Regions from separate parts of the Homo sapiens genome. Here regions 1, 2 and 3 are each linked to region 4. Evidence: fine-mapped expression QTL. A gene starts in region 4. Each other region holds a variant in brackets. All regions are shown on one strand. Distances are between the middles of the regions.

Region 1 (5,000 bases), 21 kb after region 4:
ATCATGTTGTAGTTTCGATTTACATTTCTCTGATAATTAGTGATGTTGAGCATTTTTTTCATATGTTTATTGCCCATTTGTATATCTTCTTTTGAGAATTGTCTATTCATGGCCTTAGGCCACTTTTTGATGGTATTGTTTGTTTTTTGTTGCTGATTTGTTTGAATTCCTTGTAGACTGGATATTAGTTCTTTGTTGGATGTGTAGATTGCAAAAATTTTCTCCTACTCTATGGGTTGTCTGTTTACTCTGCTGATTATTTCTTTTGCTGTGCAGAAGCTTTTTAGTTTAATTAAATCTCATCTATTTATCTTTATCTTGTTGAAGTCTTTGCTTAAGTCAATGTCTAGAAGAGTTTTTCCAATGTTCTAGAATTTTTATGGTTTCAGGTTTTAGATTTAAGTCTTTGATCCATCTCTAGTTGATTTTTGTATAAGGTGAGAGATGAGGATCCAGTTTCGTTATTCTACGTGCGACTTGCCAATTATCTCAGCACCATTTGTTCAATAGAGTGTCCTTTCCCCACTTTATGTTTTTGTTTGTTTTGTTGAAGATCAGTTGACCGTAAGTATTTGGCTTTATTTCTGGGTTCTCTATTCTGTTTTATTGGTCTAAATGCCTGTTTTTATACCAGTACCATGCTGTTTTGGTGACTGTAGCCGTATGCTATAGTTTGAAGTCAGGTAATGTAAGACCTCTAGATTTGTTCTTTTTGCTTAGTCTTGCTTTGGCTATGCAGGCTCTTTTTTGGTTCCATATAAATTTTTTTCTAGTTCTGTGAAGAATGATGATGGTATTTTGATGAGAATTGCATTGAATTTGATGATGGTATTTTGATGGGAATTGCATTGAATTTGTGGATTGCTTTTTGCAGTGTGGTCATTTTCACAACACTGATTCTACCCATCATGAGCATGGTTTGTGTTTCCATTTGTTTGTGTCATCTGTTATTTCTTTCAGCAGTGTTTTGTACTTTTCTTTGTAGAGGTCTTTCAGCTCTTTGGTTAAGTATATTCCTATGTATTTTATTTTATTTTTTTTGTAGGTATTGTAAAAGGGGCTGAGTTCTTGATTTGATTCTCTGCTTGGTAGCTGTTGGTGTATAGTGGTGTATAGCAGAGCTACTGATTTGTATATATTAATTTTGTATCCTAAAACTTTGCTGAATTCATTTACCAGTACCAGAAGCTTTTTGGATAAGTCTTTAGGGTTTTCTAGATACACAATCATTTTCATTAGCAAACAGTGACAGTTTGACTTCCTCTTTATTGATTTGGATGCCCTTTATTTCTTTCTCTTGTCTGATTGCTCTGGCTAGGACTTCCAGTACTAGGGTGAATAGAAGTGGTGAAAGTGGGCATCCTTGTCTTGCTCCAGTTCTCAGGGGGAATGCTTTCAACTTTTCCGCATTCAGTATAATGTTGGCTGTGGGTTTGTCATAGATGGCTTTTATTACCTTAAGGTGTGTTTCTTCTATGCTGATTTTGCTGAGGGTTTTAACCATAAAGGGATGCTAGATTTTGTCAAATGCTTTTTCTGTGTCTATTGAGGTGATCATATGATTTTTGTTTTTAATTCTTTTATGTAGTGTATCACATTTATTGACTTGAGGATGTTAAACCATCCCTAGATGTAAAACCATCCCTAAATCCCTGGTGTGAAACCCACTTGATCATGGTGGATTATCTTTTTGATATGCTGTTGGATTTGCTTAGCTAGTATTTTGTTGAGGATTTTTGCATCTGTGTTCATCAGGGATATTGGTCTGTAGTTTTCTTTTATTTGGAATATCCTTTCCTGGTTTTGGTGTTAGGGTGATATGGACTTCATAGAATGATTTCGGGAGGATTCCCTATTTCTTTGTCTTTTGGAGTAGTGTCAGTAGGATTGGTACCAGTTCTTCTTTGAATGTCTGATAGAATTCAGCTGTGCATCTTTCTGGTCTTGGACTTTTTTTTTTGTTGGTAACTTTTTAATTACCATTGCAATCTTGCTGCTTGTTATTGGTCTGTTCAGTTTCTATGTATTCTTGGTTTAATCTAGGAGGGTTGTATATTTCTACCCATCTCCTTTAGGTTTTCTAGTTTATGCACATAAAGGTGTTCATAATAGCCTTGAATGATTTTTTGTATTTCTGTGGTATTTGTTGTAATATCTCCCATTTCATTTCTAATTGAGCTTATTTGGATTTTCTCTCTTATTTTCTTGGCTAACCTCAATAAT[T/C]GTTTATTAGTTTTATTTATCTTGTCAAAAAACCAACCTTTTGTTTCACTTAATCTTTTGTATTTTTTTTGTTTCAATTTCATTTAGTTCTGTTCTGATCTTGACTATTTCTTTTCTTCTGCTGGGTTTGGGTTTGGATTGTTTTGTTTCTCCAGTTCTGTGAGGTGTGACCTTACATTGTCTATTTGTGTTCTTTTAGGCTTGGCTTTTTTTTTTTTTTTTTTTTTTTTTTGAGACGGAGTCTTGCTCTGTCACCCAGACTAGAGTGCAGTGGCGCGATCTTGTCTTACTGCCAGCTCTGCCTCCCAGGTTCATGCCATTCTCCTGCCTCAGCCTCCCGAGTAGCTGAGACTACAGGCGCCCACCACCACGCCCAGCTAATTTTTTGTATTTTTAGTAGAGACGTGGTTTCACCATGTTAGCCAGGATGGTCTTGATCTCTTGACCTCGTGATCCGCCTGCCTTGGCCTCCCAAAGTGCTGGGATTACAGGCATGAGCAACCATGCCCAGCCCCTTTCAAACTTTTTGATGTAGGCAGTTAATGCTATTAGCACTGCCTTTGCTGTATCACAGAGGTTTTCATAGGTTGTATCACTATTATCGTTCAGTTCAAATAATTTTTTAATTTCCATCTTGATTTTATTGTTGACCCAACAATCATTCAGGAGCAGGTTATTTAATTTCCATGTATTCGCATGGTTTTGAGGGTTTCTTTTGGAGTTGATTTCCAATTTTATTCCACTGTGGTCTGAGAAAGTACTTGCTATAAGTTCGATTTTCTTAAATTTGTTGAGACTTGTTTTGTGGCTATCATATGGTCTACCTTGAAGAATGTTCCATGTGCTGATGAATAGAATGTATATTCTGCAGTTGTTGGGTAGGATCCTCTGTAAATATCTGTGAAGTGCATTTATTGTAACGTATAGTTTATTGTTTCTTTGTTGACTTTCTGTCTTAAAGACCTGTCTAGTGCTGTCAGTGGAGTATTGAAGTCCCCCACAATTATTGTATTGCTGTCTATCTCATTTGTTAGGTCTAGTAGTAATTGTTTTATAAGTTTGGAAGCTCCAGTATTAGGTGCATATATATTTAGGATTGTGATGTTTTCCTTTTGGACTAGTCCTTTTATTATTGTATTATGTCCCTCTTTGTCTTTTTTAACTGCTGTTGCTTTGAAGTTTATTTTGTCTCAAATAAGAATAGCTACTCCTGCTCACTTTTGTTGTCCATTTGCATAGAATATCTTTTTTCACCCTGTTACCTTAAGTTTATGTGAGTCCTTATGTATCACGAGTCTCTTGAAGATAGCAGATACTTGGTTGGTGAATTCTTATCCGTTTTGCCATTTGGAATATTTTAAGTGGAGAATTTAGGCAATTTGCATTCAATGTTAATATTGACATGTGAAGTACTATTTTGTTCATTGTGCTGTTTTTTTTTTTTTTTTGCCTGAATACCTTGGGTTTTTTTCCATTGTGTTATTTTATAGGTCCTGTGAGATTTATGCTTTAAGGATTTCCTATTTTTGTGTATTTGGAGGATTTGTTTCAAGATTTAGAACTCCTTTTAGTAGTTCTTGTAATGCTGGCTTGGTAGTGGCAAATTCTCTCAGAAGTTTTTTGTCTGACAAAGACAGTATCTTTCCTTCATTTATGCAGCTTAGTTTCACTGGATACAAAGTTCTTGGCTGATAATTGTTTTGTTTAAGAAGGCTAAAGATAGGACCCCAGTCCCTTCTAGCTTGTAGGGTTTCGGCTGAGACATCTGCTGTTAATCTGATAGGTTTTCCTTTATAGGTTACCTGATGCTTTTGCCTCACAGCTCTTAAGATTCTTTCTTTCATCTTGACTTTAGGTAACCTGATGACTGTATGCCTAGGCGATGATCTTTTTGCAATGAATTTCCTAGGTGTTCTTTGAGCTTCTTGTATTCGGATGTCTAGATCTCTAGCAAGGCTGAGGAAGTTTTCCTCAATTATTCCCTCAAATATGTTTTGCAAACTTTTAGATTTCTCTTCTTCCTCAGGAACAGCAATTATTCTTAGGTTTGGTCGTTTATCGTAATCTCAAACTTCTTCGAGGCTTTGTTCATTTTTTAAAAATTCTTTTTTCTTTGTCTTTATCAATTTGGGTTAATTCAAAAGCCTTATATTTGAGCTCTGAAGTTCTTCTACTTGTCCGACTCTATTGCTGAGACTTTTCAGTGCATTTTGCATTTCTCTGAGCGTGTCCTTCATTTCCAGAAGTTGTGATTGTTTTTTATTTATGCTATCTATTTCACTGAACATTTTCCATTCATACCTGTATTATTTTTTGATTTATTTAAGTTGGACTTCACCTTTCTCTGGTGCCTCCTTTTTTTTTTGAGACTGAGTCTTACTCTGTCACCCAGGCTGGAGTGCAGTCACATGATCTCAGCTCACTGCAACCTTTGCCTCCCGGACTGAAGTGATTCTCCTGCTTCAGCCTCCTGAGTAGCTGAGACTATAGGCGAGCACCACCACATCCGGCTATTTTTTTTTTTTGTATTTTTAGTAGAGATTGGGTTTCACCATGTTGGTCAGGCTGGTCTTGAACTCCTGACCTCAGGTGATCTGCCTGCCTCAGCCTCCCAAAGTGCTGGGATTACAGGCGTGAGCCACCACGCTCGGCCTGGTGCCTCCTTGATTGGATTAGTAGTTGACCTTCTGAATTCTTTTTCTGGCAATTCAGATATTTCACCTTGGTTTGGATCCACTGCTGGTGAGCTAAGGTGATCTTTTGGGGGTGTTAAAGAA
Region 2 (5,000 bases), 49 kb after region 4:
GCATTGTCAGTAGAATACATTATTAGAAACTGTTAAGGTCTTTCCCGGGACATTTTTTTCTGCCATTTTCTTTTGCAATTGTAGTTTTATGTACTGTTAAAGAATTGTATTGAATTCTTTTTAGATCAAAGTAAAAATAGGTCAGCAGAGATTTCAGTTTCCCAGGGCTTAACCAGAACCGCCACCTCAATGCATTGTCAGTAGGATACATTATTAGAAACTGTTAGGGTCTTTCCCAGGACATTTTTTTTTCTGTATCATGTCTCCCCATCATTGAAGCGCAAATTTTCTTGAATTCAAATACTCCCAATGAGCTTGTATACTTCCAAACAGCTAAACTTGATTTCCAGTTGTGGATTTCACACATATAATTGCCGCCTTCTTCCCTCCTCTTTTTTCCCCCCTAGTTGAATCAGCTTGTCTAACAAGCCCATTTTCATGCCCCAGCTGTGCTGTGGGTTTTCCAAGCCTCATATTTGAATATTCAATGAGTTTAAGATGGATATGATTTCAAAAAATAGGGCCGGGCGCGGTGGCTCACGCCTGTAATCCCAGCACTTTGGGAGGCCGAAGCAGGCGGATCACGAGGTCAGGAGGTCGAGATCATCCTGGCTAACACAGTGAAACCCCATCTCTACTAAAAATACAAAACATTAGCCGGGCGTGGTGGTGGGTGCCTGTAGTCCCAGCTACTCTGGAGGCTGAGGCAGGAGAATGGCGTGAACCCGGGAGGCGGAGCTTGCAGTGAGCCGAGATCGCGCCACTGCACTCCAGCCTGGGTGACAGAGCGAGACTCCGTCTCAAAAAAAAAAAAAAAAAAAAAAAAAAAATATATATATATATAGATATATTTTCCAGCAGTTTTTAGGAAACAAAGGTGTGTTTGATTTTCCAATTTAGAGTTACTTCATTGATAGTAACATGCGCTTATATCATGATCTAAACCATAAGTTCAGATTGCTTGATATTTTGTTTTGCCAGACTTTTTTGATAATCTGATTCTTACGGTTTACTTACATTTTCCTCTGTCTTGCCAGTCTGGTGGCCATCCTGAAAAATATCACCACCTGCTGTTTTATACACAGAGGAATTTTTTAAAAAGCAAATAAAGTTTCACTATCTTCGTTTCCAGTAGAAATATACACGAACTATGGTTTTATTCTTTGTAATTCGGCTTTCTTGAAGATACTAACAAGTATATGATAGATCACTTTGGCATCTGATAATTATATCAGTATTATTATTTTTGTTTTTTTGCGTTTAAAATAAGAAGTTGTATGAACCCAGGAGGTGGAGGTTGCAGTCAGCCAAGAATCGTGCCACTGCACTCCAGTCTGGGCGACAGAGCAATACTCCGTCTCCAAAAAAAAAAAAAAAGAAGCTATAATATATATCTAGATTAACTAATGGAGTGCTCTGTGAATATTCATTAACTACATTTTATCTATTTACTATATTTTATATGGGTAAGACCAGTGGTCATCCGTATTTCTTTTGAAAGCCCACTTGATCAGGAAGTTTATATTTTAAGCAGTATGTTTGCACAATGGTCAGTTCACATTTGATTGCTTGTATTACTAATTAGAGGTAAAACTTCTATTTTTTCTTGATAATTCTGTAGGCAAAAAAAATTGGGGAAGGCAAATTACAATCATTCTTCTTCTGTAATACTTTGGGACAATTTTTAAACAACTCAGACCCATGTTTAAAAACGAGTTTTGTGTGATTAACCCTTGTATAGTATCCAGTTACTGTCTTCTCTTGAAGTGGTGGTTCTTTGAGAAGTAGAATTATTTTGTAACTTTTCTTCTCCCAGAAACAGAAGAATCAAATACTATTCTGTTAGGATTCTATCTAGACCTGTGACTCTTAGTATAATAACCCTTTTATTATTATTATTATTATT[A/T]TTTTTTCAGTAATCTATAAAGTAGAGTTGCTTAGTTTTGAGCAATTTAGGGCTTTTCTTATTGGCCAGTAGGTTATTCATTTTGCTGCTAAATATAATTTTTTGGTTAATTTTAACATTATAGTGCTGGCCGCTTGGTTCTATGATTACCTAAAAATCTAGTTTTTTTCCTCCATAGGTAGATGTGTGTGTATGCATACCCCCACACACACACGTACATATATGTTGTCATAGAGAGGTATTTCAACCCTTATTTCAAATAACAGTAGAAGATACGAACATGAATTTATATTTTGTAAAAATGTCATTCATCCACTTTGTTTTCCATTGGAAATAGTTTTATAAGAAGGGTTCCCCTTGCTCTCTCCACTTAACAATTTCATTATATACGTAGAAAAAGCAGCCGACTTAAGGGCTTGATGTTTTTTCAGGCCTTGTGGATTCAGGTTTCCAGTTTCCCAGTGCCCTTAATGGATGTTATGAATGCATAAGCACATTTTCTTTTAAAGAAAGAAGTTAGATTTATAGTGTTATTTCTTACTTGCTATATTTCTTTGCACTAAAAAAGAGCTATGTGTTTGTTTTATAGGACACTTTAGTACCGTATTGCCTACAATAACTCAGTTTGCTCCTTAAATTCCAAACTCTGGGAAGTTGATAAATAACTTCCATGATCACTTGTAAAAGTTACATGCACATCTGAAAAAAAATCACAAATCTCTATGACAGTAGGTTATGTTTTGAGCTTGTTACCTTGCAGTATTCTTCTCTGTTCCATAGGTGAAAACAAAGGGTGACAGAGGTTATCAGGCAGGAAATGCCTAAATAGATACATCTCTGCATGGTACAATTTCTCATATTCATGTATTCCATAAACAGTGTTTTTTCTCTGTTTAAGCAGACTGTTGTTTCTTCTGAGTCAGTGATATGTGATCTTCGTTGGTTTCATTTTGTGAAGCTCAGTCTGTCTCTGTAACATACTTTAGGATTTGCACCTTGTGCTCCCCAGGAATTATGTTAGTGTCCTTTTCTATGCTGTCTTCAAGGATGGACAGAGGCCTAAACCACAACAACAACAAAAATTAGAAAAAAAAATACTTAGATTTCGGTAATCATCCATAGGAACTCATAGCATCAGTCTCTTTTCTCTGTGAATAATATCTTTGTGTAAGTTGTCATAAAAAATCAACGTTAGAAGATGACAATTAGAATTCTTCTTAGGTATTGAGGGTAAGAAGTTGTAAAGAAAGAAAATTCGTGTTTCAACTAAAAGATTGGATTGCATATACCTTTGAAGTGGTTTTGTAAAAAAAGTTCAGTTACTAAACTGAGTGTGCCCTGTAATCCTTTTGAGTGCACTGAAGATGCTTTGAAAATACTTTGTTGGTCTTCACATTGTGCATCATGTCCTGCAACTTGTAAATATGTGCATGTTGTTTATGTTTGTCTGCCTGTCTCTTATTGCACTAAATTCTGCAAGGTGAATAATTTTTTTATACCATTTATTTGGAAAAAGTTCCTCCTCCAACTCTTCTTCACTGACCTTTTAATTAGTTGGTAAACTTAGAAAACCAGGTAGGATTTTTGAAGCCCTGAGTTTAAAAGAAGAATCGTGGCTATTTGACATCATCCTTACATTCCCCTGACTTAAAAAGCTAACAAGAAGCACGAGATCTTCCACCTCATTTTAGAAAGCTTTTCTACAGAACTATATGCTTGCTTATAGCTACCTATCTACAGTTTGAACAGGGAGAAAGGGAGATATGTATGTCTGGTTACATCTTCCTTCACTCTTGAATTGGCTGGGACAGCAAGCAACAACAGTTTGAGGTCCAGTGACCTACGTAAAATGAGTGTCGTTTGTGTCAGGGGACACATGTAACTGTGCAACATGGTATTTTCTACAGGGAGGGCTAGGAAGGGTGGTTTTGGAACCTAACCTACTTTGTGTCTTCATTGTCAGAACTAAGGTTGGAAATGCCCTTTAAAGAACTTGGTGAGGCATATGCTAGGACAATAGAGCTGCTTTAGAAAGAAATTGAGACATGTTTTGTCAGGACAGATAAAAGTTTAATGCAGGCTTTTGAACAGATGTTTTAAAACAAATTTGACCTTACCAACTATTTTTTTCTTCTAGCCAAATCATTGTACAGGAGTTTCATATATGATAAAAAGTGTTTTGTTATTGTTTTTGCTTTCTTGGCAGGGGAGAACCCCTACCATTGTGAGCAGTTACTGTCACTCTGGCTGAATGGACAAATAGCTGTGTAAATAGCTTCTCATAAAACGCTTCTACTGATAGCTGTTTGACTTTTTCTTCCCGTTATGAATGGGAGGAACATTTGTAAACTTCCTTTCTGGGTAGCTACCAAAAAACGTACTGGCTTATGGTCCCATGTGACCTTGTCTCCGTTAAGCCCAGAATCTGAGTGCCTTTAGCAAGTGTTAGCATTTCACAGAGAGAAGAGAGACAGAATTATTGCTATTAATCACCATTCATAAATAGGAGCTTGGAATAACAAAGGTCTGTGTGAATTCTGTTCTACGTCTTTTTTTTCCCTTTTTTAAATAAATGTCAATTTGATATCAAGTAAAACTATTGTCATTATTGATCAGAAACCATACATTCTGAAAATGAATCCAGTTTTCCCAAGCTGGCAGAAGTCAGAGATCATTTTTCACCTTGATCTGTGTTGCGTTTGTACTTAGTGAATGGCAGTGTGGTTGATTGGAAGAGCTTGACACTGATGTTTGGAAAAATTCTTTATTCTAGTGGTCATTTTCAAACTTGTCTTCTGTAGAGAGGGGAAAAATTATGTATTTGCAGCTAAAGCGAAGAGACTGGCACAATAATTATTAATTGTGTTAGTTCATTTCTATATTAAATGAAGCATCTTCACAAATCAGGTTTGAAGCCATTAAAAGCAAAATTTTCCCTAGTTTAATTAATTTAAAATTCTAAATTGCCTGACTACTTAGAATCTTAGAAACGCCCTGCTAGACTGATTTTATTATAGAAATGTTAACATGTTCCTCAACATTTTCTCAAGAAAATTTTCAGACATATATCAAAGTTGAAAAAACTTTGCAGTAT
Region 3 (5,000 bases), 36 kb after region 4:
CCTCAGCCTCCCAAAGTGCTGGGATTATAGGCATGAGCCACTGTGCCTGGCCCTAGTTCCATGGTTTTAAATTCCACCTACATACTGATAACTCCTCAGATTCTATCTCTAACCTGACCTCGTTCGTAAACTCCAGGTTGGTCTCTCTTTGGACATCTGAAAGGGATCTCAGACTTAACACAGCAAGTGGGTCTCTTGATGCCCAGCTCTTCCCCCTTTCTCTACATTGCATGGCTGGAGCCATCTCATGCTTCAGCTTTTAGCTGACATGTATCTCCCCAGAAAAGCCTTGTCGGCCCACCCCACTCTCTCCCTGTCCATTATCTATTATATCATCCTGTTTTATTTTTTGCAGAGCAGTTGTCAGTAACTCTTTTTTCTTTGGTTGTGTGTGTGTACATATATATATGTACATGTATATATTCTGTTTATGTCCCCTAGAAAAGCTTCTTGAGGGCAGAGACTTTGCCTTTGTTCACTGTTTTATCTCCTTTTCTTAGAATGGTTGCCAGAACATAGAGGGTAGTCAGTAACTATTTAACCCTGTTATCTTCCGCCAGAGTTGTAGATTCAAATTCTCACCTGTTTTTAGAAGACTTCTAAACCTTCTTAGCCTTGACTTCCTTAGTGCTAATGTTGCAGCTTTTGTAGTTCAGCAAGCGGGAGGAAATGGCACACTGGCTTTTTTTCCCCGTTGCTCAGTGAGCAGGAGGGAGGGTTGCAGTGTAAGGATTCCTTTGGTGCTGCTTCACCAGCCGGAAATCTCTGTGGGTGCTGTGTCCTCTGCCTGGGGCCTCATTCCACCGAGCTCACTCCGCCCACTCAGCCTGGCAGGCTGTGCTCGGCTTGTGCCTTGGCCTGGATCCTGCGCCCGCTGAGGGATCTGCACTCAGCCCATGGCTCCACTGGGTGTGTTGCCAGCAGCTTCTGCATTGGGTGTCGTTGTCTAGATGAGGGGAATGTGGGTGGTGCCCGAAAACTCAGAGATGTCAGTAATGGCAGAGTCCCAAGGGGTGTTACAGCTCTCATCCGGGGAGTCCCAAGATTTGACCTCCCAAGAAATGTTGCAGCTTTGTATTGTTCCTGCCACCTGCAGCTTGGCGAACAGGGGCATGTTACAGCTCAGTCGGTCCCACCACCCGCAGCTCAGTGAATGGGTGTGTGTTACAGGTTGGCCTATTCTGGGTTCTTCTCCTGCGACCAAGAGGAATAAGAGGAATAAGGTACATGGACACTGGAGAGTGAATAGGGTGGAGAAGAATTTCATTGAGCAATAGAAGGAAAGCTCTCAGCAGAGAGGGGGCCCAAGAGTGATTAGCCCTGTGTGTGAGAGGGGACCCAAAAGAGGTTTGCCATCTGTGGGGTTGAGTCTGGGATTTTTATGGGCTCAGAATGGGGGAGTGCGTGCTGATTGGTTCACGGGTCGGCTTGGAAAAAGCACCATTTGATTGCCTAAAAGGCATCGAGGAAGTTCTCACTCTCGTTGTGGACTCCACCTGCAACTGGCAGCTCAGTTTTCAGTCTTTAAACTGTCTTTGGCATGAGGTTGGGTTTCACAGGGACCCATCCCTGTCTGCCTAGGAATTTGTCTGTCTCCAGTTGCTGTCACTAAGCCACACATTGCACTGTCTCTTGGATTCATTAAGATGTCTTTCGGTTGTCTCAATCTCATATTGAGATTGAGATTGTTGACTCTATCTTCTTCCCCAAAGCCTTTTTTCCTCCCCACACCTTTAAAAATTTTTCATAAATATTTCCATCTACCCTGCGGTTCACCTCCCTTCTACCCTCTTATCCAATATGCTATTACTTGTTCTTACCTTCTTCATAGTTCCTGCGTCTTTCTCCTTTATCTAGCCATTATCTTGCTTGAGGCCCATTTTGCAAGCTGTTATCTGTCTCCACTCTGTCTAGGTGATAGTTTTTGGCTCCATAGCTTTAAATACCATCCACATTCAGATCATTCCTGAGAGTCTGTCTTCATCCTGACCACACTCTTGAACTCCAGTTTGGTTGTGGGCTTCTATGATAACATACTATCTGATTTTTATCTTACTTTTTGGCTAGACCTTGTCAATCTCATTTTCTGGATCTTCATTCTCTACTAGACTCTATGTTGTAGTGTCTAGGATTTTGTCCTTGACTCTCCTCTGTGTATCTTCCCAGCTTCCAGCTTTGGTCTGCTACCCTGATGCTCATCTTTATCAAATACAATCAAGTCATGCACTGCTTTGCTTAAAGTTCCTCAGAGGCTCCCTGCTGCCTCTGAAGTCCAAGTTCTTTATCATGGGCAAAGGCATTAAGAATGAGCCCCCTGTGTATTTCAATTTTTGCCTCTCCTCCAAAGGATCTAGAAGACCGTTATCTCTCCTTGTAGCCCCTCAACACAGAAGGCTGGGCTTTTGCTCATGCTATTTTCTTGGTGCACAGTTTTCTTTTTCCGTATTGCTTACCTCCCCTGTAAACATTTGCTCATTTAAAAAGATGAGTCAGTTGCCCCCTTTTCAGGGAAGTCTTCCGTGATACATTCAGGCAGGAGTAAGAAATTCCTTCTCTGTGTTCTCCTAGCAGTTTATTATCTTCATTATAATACTTGGTTCATTTATCCAACAGTTATTTATTGCTTGCTTGCTATATTCTGGAAACTATTCTAGGCATTGGGATTAGAACAGTAAACAAGACAGATGAGGTCCTCATTTTCAAGAAGTCTACATTACAGAGCGGAGGAAAGAGAAAAAAAAACAAGTCAACAAACTATATTATTTTAGATAGTGATTAGTGATACTAAGATAAAATAAAACCGGCCAGTGTGGTAATATGATGGAGTGTGTGTGGTGTGGAGAGGGGGAGTGGTTGTGACACTTGAGAGTGAGTGAGGTCCAGTTTGAGTTGAGACTTGAAAGATTAGAAGGAGCAATCCATACAGAGATCTGCAAGAGGTACATTCTAGGCAAAAGGAACAGTTAAGTACAAAGGCCTTGGAGCTAGCCT[G/A]AGCTTGGCATGTTTAAGGAGCACATGCAGCCTAGTGAGCCAGGAGCATAATGAGCAGGGGAAAGGAAGGAGTGCTGTCTGACATAAGGCCCAAGAGATAGACGGGGCCAGATCATGTAGGGCCTTATAGGTAAGATTTGTCAATTAGATGGGGCCAGAACATGTAGGGCCTTATAGGTGAGATTTGTCAGTTAGACAGGGCCAGATCGTGTAGGGCCTTATAGGTAAGATTTGTCAATTTTAAGTATAGCAGAAAGCCATTGGAAGAGTTTTATGTGAGGGAGTGACATGGAACTGATTCATGTCAAGAATTATTACTTGGGTTTATAATGAGGAGAATTCTAGGAGGACAAGATTAACAGCAGAGACCAATTAGGAGTTGTTACCTACTGCAAATGACCACTGTTACCTACTGCAAATGAAAAATGTTGGTACCTTGGATTACTGTGGTATTTGTAGTATCCATGGAGAGAAGTGGAGTGATGTGGGATGTATTTTGAATGACAAGACTTGCTGATGGGTTGAATGTGTTGGGCTTAGGGAAGGATGGAATCAGGAAAAGGACCCCTTGGCTTTTCTTGGGTAATTTTGTGGATGGTGGTGCCATTTACCTACTGTGGATGACTAGTGGTGGTGGTGATGGTGGTGATGAGAAAGTTCTATGGAGGAGGAATCAAAAGTTGTTTTAAGTTGGATATGCCTCTTAAGACGTGAAAGTATGGATGACCAGGAGGAAGCTGGATATGTGGTTCTGAAGGTCAAAGATGGAGATTGATGATTTGGGGAGTCACCAACTTACTCATGGTATTTGAAAGCTATAGGTCTGGGTAGAATAACCTAGAGTCAGAGAATAAAAGAGGGCTAAGGGTGCGTCCTTGGACATTGTAGAGTTTAGAGGTCTGATAGAGGAGGAGAGGTGGGGAGGGAAGAAGGAGTATAGATGATAGTAGGAGGAATGTTTCAAGAAGGAAATGAACTGTGTCATGCTACTTTGAGTTCCAGTAAGATGAAGGCACATATGTGACCACTGGATTTGACTCTGGAGTTCACTGTGACCATGGTAAAAGCACCTTTAGGGTATTGAAGTGAGGAGAAGATGGATCTTAGTTCATTACTCTATTTAGCTGCTTAGGTATCTGTCTCCTCCTCTATGTGCTAGTCCTTAGTTTATTTCTAGGGCTTAGCATATAAATAGATGGTGAATAAATGTTTGCCTGCAGGTTTGAGTTTTACAATGCAGTTTAAAGAATAATATACTGTTTTACCCTTATTTAGAATGCTTTTGTACTATTGACCCTTGCCACTAGTTTGTGTCAGTTCAAGGAATATAATCATGTGACTAATAAAACGTGATGAGAAAGGCAAGTTGATGTTAGTAGAGGTTCCTAGTGCATCTTGAAGCCATCATGCTGTAGTGGAAAAGGGCCATTCTTTGATTTGGAAGGCCTGTCTCAGGCTTTGGCTGTGCTATTTAGCCCTTGAGAAGGGAGCTGGGGGCAAGCTCCTTACAGTCTCTGGATTGCAGTTCCTTGGCTGTCATAAATGGACAATATTAACAAATTCCTCTTACAAGATTTTTGTGAGCAGCAAATGAATAAATGCAATGAACATCCTTTGTAAGTAAAAAGATACTCTGTAAGGGCAATTTTAAAAGAATAATTGGATTATCCATTTCATTACTAACTTATAAAGTACATTAGATCAGAGTGTCATGAAATTCATATTTATCTGTGGCATATAAATGGCAAGAAGTTGGGTGAGGACATAAGTCACTGGAAAATGTGATACTTCTTTTTTTTTTTTCCTAAAATCCCATATTCTTTTCTTTTCTTTTCTTTCTTTCCTTTTTTTTAAAATTTTTTTAGTATTTATTGATCATTCTTGGGTGTTTCTCGGAGAGGGGGATTTGGCAGGGTCATAGGACAATAGTGGAGGGAAGGTCAGCAGATAAACACGTGAACAGAGGTCTCTGGTTTTCCTAGGCAGAGGGCCCTGCCGCCTTCCGCCTT
Region 4 (5,000 bases):
TTATGAGACTACTGTCACTGCCATGAGCTTCAAATATCTATTACACAAGCATCAGATTTGCCTTTTCTTTCTCCCCGAGGCAGGGAAGGAAATGCCCTAGCTGTCTGAGAAGAGTATGTGAGCAGAGAACATGGAATTGTTCAGATTTTCATCCTGATGGACAAGAACACATCAAACTATCAAACATAAAACTTGAAAACTCCAAGACATTTATCCTTCCTGGACTCAAGGTATTTACAGGGCAGAGGAAATATCTCTTAAGTAATTATAATGTGGGACAACAAATAGTGTGTCATCAAGGTGTGCGGAGAAAAGTGCTGTGGGACCTCATGAAAGAAGAGGCCTGGAAGGACAGGTAGGATTTGACAATTCAAGGGGAGGGGAGAGAAAGCATTTTGTATTCAAGATGCAGACAGAGCTAAATTACAGAGGCAGGAAATGAAGGGGCATGGATGGGGGTGTGAGTGAAATGATGAGGGGAGACTGGTGGAAGGTCAGATCGGAAAGGCTCCGCAAGGCCTACTTGTGGTCCTAGATAAGGAGTGTGGACTGTGAAGTTCTAAGACTGGCTAAAGACCATATAGAAAAGGGGCTGGAGAGTGGATTTTAGCAGCATTTATTATTTTAGAAACAATATAGCCCTTTAAAATAGTGACACATAAAGTAAATGTACCTATACAGCTGGAAAAACAATTCAGGTGATGGATTACTCTCCCCAAATGGCTGGTGTACACTGTGTGTATATGTTTGTACTTCATATTCATTGTACTTATGAAGTCTTTTATGGTTTGTTGTTGTTGGTATTGGATTGGTGCATTTTTCAGCCAAAGAAACAGCCTTGATTTCCTGCAGTTGTTTCCCTACTAATAGGGCACATCTTACTATACTTAGATCTCCTTGGCATTTTAATTCGTGTTTTAAAAAATAACCACACAATAATGCAAATGTACTTAATGCCACTGAACTGTACTTTTTTTTTTTTTTTTTTTGAGACGGAGTCTCGCTCTGTCACCCAGGCTGGAGTGCAGCGGCGCGATCTCGGCTCACTGCAAGCTCCGCCTCCCGGGTTCACGCCATTCTCCTGCCTCAGCCTCCCGAGTAGCTGGGACTACAGGCGCCCACCACCACGCCTGGCTAATATTTTTGTATTTTTAGTAGAGATTGGGTTTCACCGTGTTAGCCAGGATGGTCTCGATCTCCTGACCCCGTGATCCACCCGCCTCGGCCTCCCAAAGTGTTGGGATTACAGGCGTGAGCCACCGCGCCCGGCCTGTACTCTTAAAGTAGTATATTTGTTATCGTTTGCCACACACAAAAATAATACCCCAGCAGATCTTCATACGAGTTAATTTACGCTATAAGTTTAGAGCCGGAATTTCCTCAGCTCATCACTCAGTGTTAACATTGAAGATGTCCAGGTTGGTTATGAAGGATGTGACATCCTAGCGTTGGCCACTCTTTTCCTGGTCCTTCCTGTCTTGCAGGTGAGCCTCTGGGGGTCAGGAGAAAGTCTCCTCTATCTCCTGCTCACTTTCGTGTAGGGGAGGGAAGGTGTGTGTGTGGGTGGGTGGGGGCGTTTTGTGTGAGGGAGGCCGATACTGGGCAGGCAGCCACGCTCTTCTTCCTCCATCCTGGGGCGGAAGTGGGGAGAGCAGCAGTTTAAAGGTTCTGTTGCAGCAGTTTAAAGGATCCACTCAGCCGCCTTAACCGCCAACCAGCAGGCTAAGGGAGGAACAGAATGAACAATGTTTGGATCCCAATGACTGGAGATGAAAGTTGCAAAAGCTCTGCCCAGGCTTCTACCAAGGATTAACTTTCCAGGGCATCTGCTGAACTGCTCTTCGGGGCTGTCTGCTGAGATTGGCGGCGGGACCCTCCCGCCTCTCACTCGTGCCTTTGTTCCCCACGCCGGCCTAACCCCGCGCCCCTGCGCTCGCGGCCAGGGCACCTGACCCACGCGCCGCCCGCCGGGGATGCGGGAGCCGCCACTGCTACCGCTGCCACCGCTGCCGGGCCTGCTCCGCCAAGCACATGCGCAGTGGCGACGCCGAGCCGGCGCCCTCAGTCTCCTCCTCCACCGCCTCCCGGTTCCGCAGTCACTTCCTGCAGCTGTTTCCCTGTGGGTCGGGTTGGACTGACTTTTGACAGTCAGCCTTCGGCTGCGGAGGGGGCTCGGCGGCGGCCGGCGGAGAAAGTTGCTCCGAGAAGAGGCTGGGTCGAGCTGGGCCGAGCCGGGCGCGCAGGGCGGGCGTCGCGGGCGTCCCGGGCGGACGCGGCGCGGAGACTGCCGGCGCGTCCCGGGGGTTCCGGTAAGTGCGGGCGATTGGGAGCCGCGGAGCTTTCAGGACGAGCCCCTGGAGCGCCGGGGACTAGCGGTTCCTTTCCGATGCTCTTTCCATCTGCCCTCCACGTGACAGGGCTTGCGCTGCTTCTATTTATCAGTTTGCTTGTTTCAGGCATTTCACGTGGACCAGGTGGATCATCTGTGCGTGCAGCTGCCTTGGCCCTCTCAGTTGCCCCCGCCCCGTGGGAGTCGGGGGATTCCATCCTTCGTGATGGCATCCATACCGGGTTGAGGTGCGTGTGTGGGTTCGTGTGTATGCATGCACATCTTAGGAATGTAAGGTGGATGTGGGCGACGCTGAACTGTCTGTAGCTTTGATTCAAATCTGTAAACAGTTCTCTAGGATTAGGAACCGTCACAGCGGAGACTGAAAAACATTCGCCAATTCACCAAGGCCTCTTCCCCAGTTTTCTGCGTTCTTTTGAGCCTTCTTTATAGGATACACCTTGCCTCAAGTGATTATTATTATTATTTTTTTTAACTTTTCTCCCTCTCATTCCTTCTTGCTGCGTTCTGATGACCTCTGAGTAATGCTCGCTGCCTTTCCCTCATTTCCAGAATTCCCAATTACAGACTTACCTAGTTTGCTGAGGTGCTCCTAACCTGTTCCTTTATTCTATTCTCTTTCCTCTGTAGATTTCTCCAAATGAGACAAGAGATTGTCTTTAACACAGTATGTGAAGAGTAGGCCCCAGTCCAATCATTAAAACTAAGTATGCTATGACAATTAATTTTCTTTAAACAGGGTACCTTGTGAAGCTTTGATTTTCTTTAATGTCGTCTTAGCTCCTTTCCAAACCAGGACATTAACCAGCATAAATCCTTCATTTATGCCATCGCAAGCATCAAAGTGACTGGTTTTTAAGATTTGAAGAATATTTATGCCAGTCTTCAAATTAGTCCCTTTTAAACCAATGCAACAGTTGAACAGATCTGAGTTGCATGTTTTGGGTCTCTGTATTCCATCATTCATGCATTCACTGAAGACTTGGTTTTATTCATTTTAAGATTTATATTTTATACTAATTTTTGTTTGCAAATGTACTAATATTTGATGCAATTGTCATACATAGATTTTTTTGAGGAGTCGACATTGTGTTGATTGTTAAATATAACAAGAAATAAATTTGGGATATCAAGCTACTCTTTAAAAATTGTAAAGATCAAATGTGATAATGGGTAAATCTGTGTTTGGCAAGAATTTTTTCTTTAAATCAGGTAACTGTCACCTCTGGTAGGAGGCCTTTTGTGCCTCTGTTCTTTGAGAAGGATCTTTATTTTGAGGGAAACCTGTAGATAACACTGGGGGAGACACATGCTAGAATTTCCTCAAGTGAAAGTGAGCTTTCATAAAACAAGTCCAGACATGCCTAGGCAATTGGTAGCATTTGATTTTCTGTTTATATTGCTGATTTCCTTTATCCAGAGGTTTTGACACCCCCCCCCACCTTTTCACTAATGAACTAGCAGAATGTTTGTGGCAATTTGACATCAGTAGCTTTTCAACATTATGAATTATTATTATTAGGTAGTTAAACTTTTTAAAAGCTGTTCTTTGTCTACTTAGTTCCGTTTTCTAAAATGACCATATCTGTCTTTGCTTTCTGGACTATCTTTGCTTGATTCAATTAAGAGAAATAATACCATTACAGAGAACCTGACTTTTTAAATGTTAAAACTCTATATTGCTTTTCTTTTATGTTCCCAGAGATATGGGCAGTACACTTCTGCTTAAAAATTAAATAATATTATCATTTTTCTAAATTTTGTGATTAATGAGAAGTATTGTTAAATTCTATGACTAATACTTATGCACTTTGTCCTTAACTACATTATTTTCCCATCACGCTGATTTCCTTTGTTGCCTCCCCACCCCAAATTTCGTCTGAAAGTTGTTACTTGATTTTCAGGTGCTGTGTAGTTATCAAATATGGTAAAATAGACTTTAACTTTTCAAAATTTACTTGATTCATTTTAGTAATTCTATTATTGCCATAATGTACACATTTCCATTGCAGATGGAAAATTTCAGCAGCTTAAAATAGCCATATTCTATTGACCAAGAGAAGAGGTTTTAATAATACTGTATTGAGAGAGTGGAGGGAATTGTGGATTTTGAAATAAGGATTCTAATTTGGGTTAATTAGAATCTTGGGAACTCAAAGGGTGTACTGTGGTTCATTTTGAGACACTCAGGGTTAGACGGCGCCATCTGGGGGGGAGGCAGGAGACATTATGGATAAAGATTGAAGAGGGAGAGGAACATTTTGGGTCTTTTCTGAGGGAATTATAATAGAGACTATCAGTTATTTGTTAAGAAGGAGGAGGGAAATAGCCTCAAGATTGAGGAACTGGAATTATACTGTGGCTTATGGTGGTGTGATCCATTACTCCATTGGACATTTCCTTGATACCTTATTTTGTGTAGGTAATTTACCTAGAGAAGGAGGAAAAATTTGGGTTTTACAGGGGCTGATGAATATAATCTAAGGCTGTATGAGGCAGGGCTGTAAACTCAAGAGCTCACAGAGAACAGGCAAGTAACAAGTACAGGCAGCAGCTGAGTGGGGACTGAGGTGTCCCAGAGAAGGCAGGCCTCGCTAGAGGGCACAGTGCCTCTGAGCACTAACTAGCTAATTGCGTCCCATATAGGAAT

What was found. PIP is the estimated chance that this variant, and not a neighbour inherited with it, causes the effect.
Region 1: its variant is the best candidate, but not a certain one, in a credible set for the expression of ZMAT3 in B cells (Fairfax 2012, PIP 0.88).
Region 2: its variant is the best candidate, but not a certain one, in a credible set for the expression of ZMAT3 in CD4 T cells (CEDAR, PIP 0.57).
Region 3: its variant is the best candidate, but not a certain one, in a credible set for the expression of ZMAT3 in spleen (GTEx, PIP 0.85).

Annotation. Positions count from the first base shown.
Region 1 is chr3:179,047,447-179,052,446 of GRCh38, reverse strand. The region is part of intron 2 of ZMAT3 (zinc finger matrin-type 3); the gene reads left to right. Among named protein-coding and RNA genes, the nearest start is that of ZMAT3, 22 kb to the left of the region's middle. The variant T/C (reference allele first, on the strand shown) is at 2,224.
Region 2 is chr3:179,019,541-179,024,540 of GRCh38, reverse strand. It overlaps ZMAT3 (zinc finger matrin-type 3), which reads left to right. Exons shown (of 6, transcript NM_022470.4): 6 at 1-5,000. Among named protein-coding and RNA genes, the nearest start is that of ZMAT3, 50 kb to the left of the region's middle. The variant A/T (reference allele first, on the strand shown) is at 1,907.
Region 3 is chr3:179,033,351-179,038,350 of GRCh38, reverse strand. All of the region lies in intron 2 of ZMAT3 (zinc finger matrin-type 3), which reads left to right. Among named protein-coding and RNA genes, the nearest start is that of ZMAT3, 36 kb to the left of the region's middle. The variant G/A (reference allele first, on the strand shown) is at 2,992.
Region 4 is chr3:179,068,904-179,073,903 of GRCh38, reverse strand. It overlaps ZMAT3 (zinc finger matrin-type 3), which reads left to right and starts at 2,095. Exons shown (of 6, transcript NM_022470.4): 1 at 2,095-2,309. RefSeq lists silencers at 1,669-2,078, 2,219-2,368.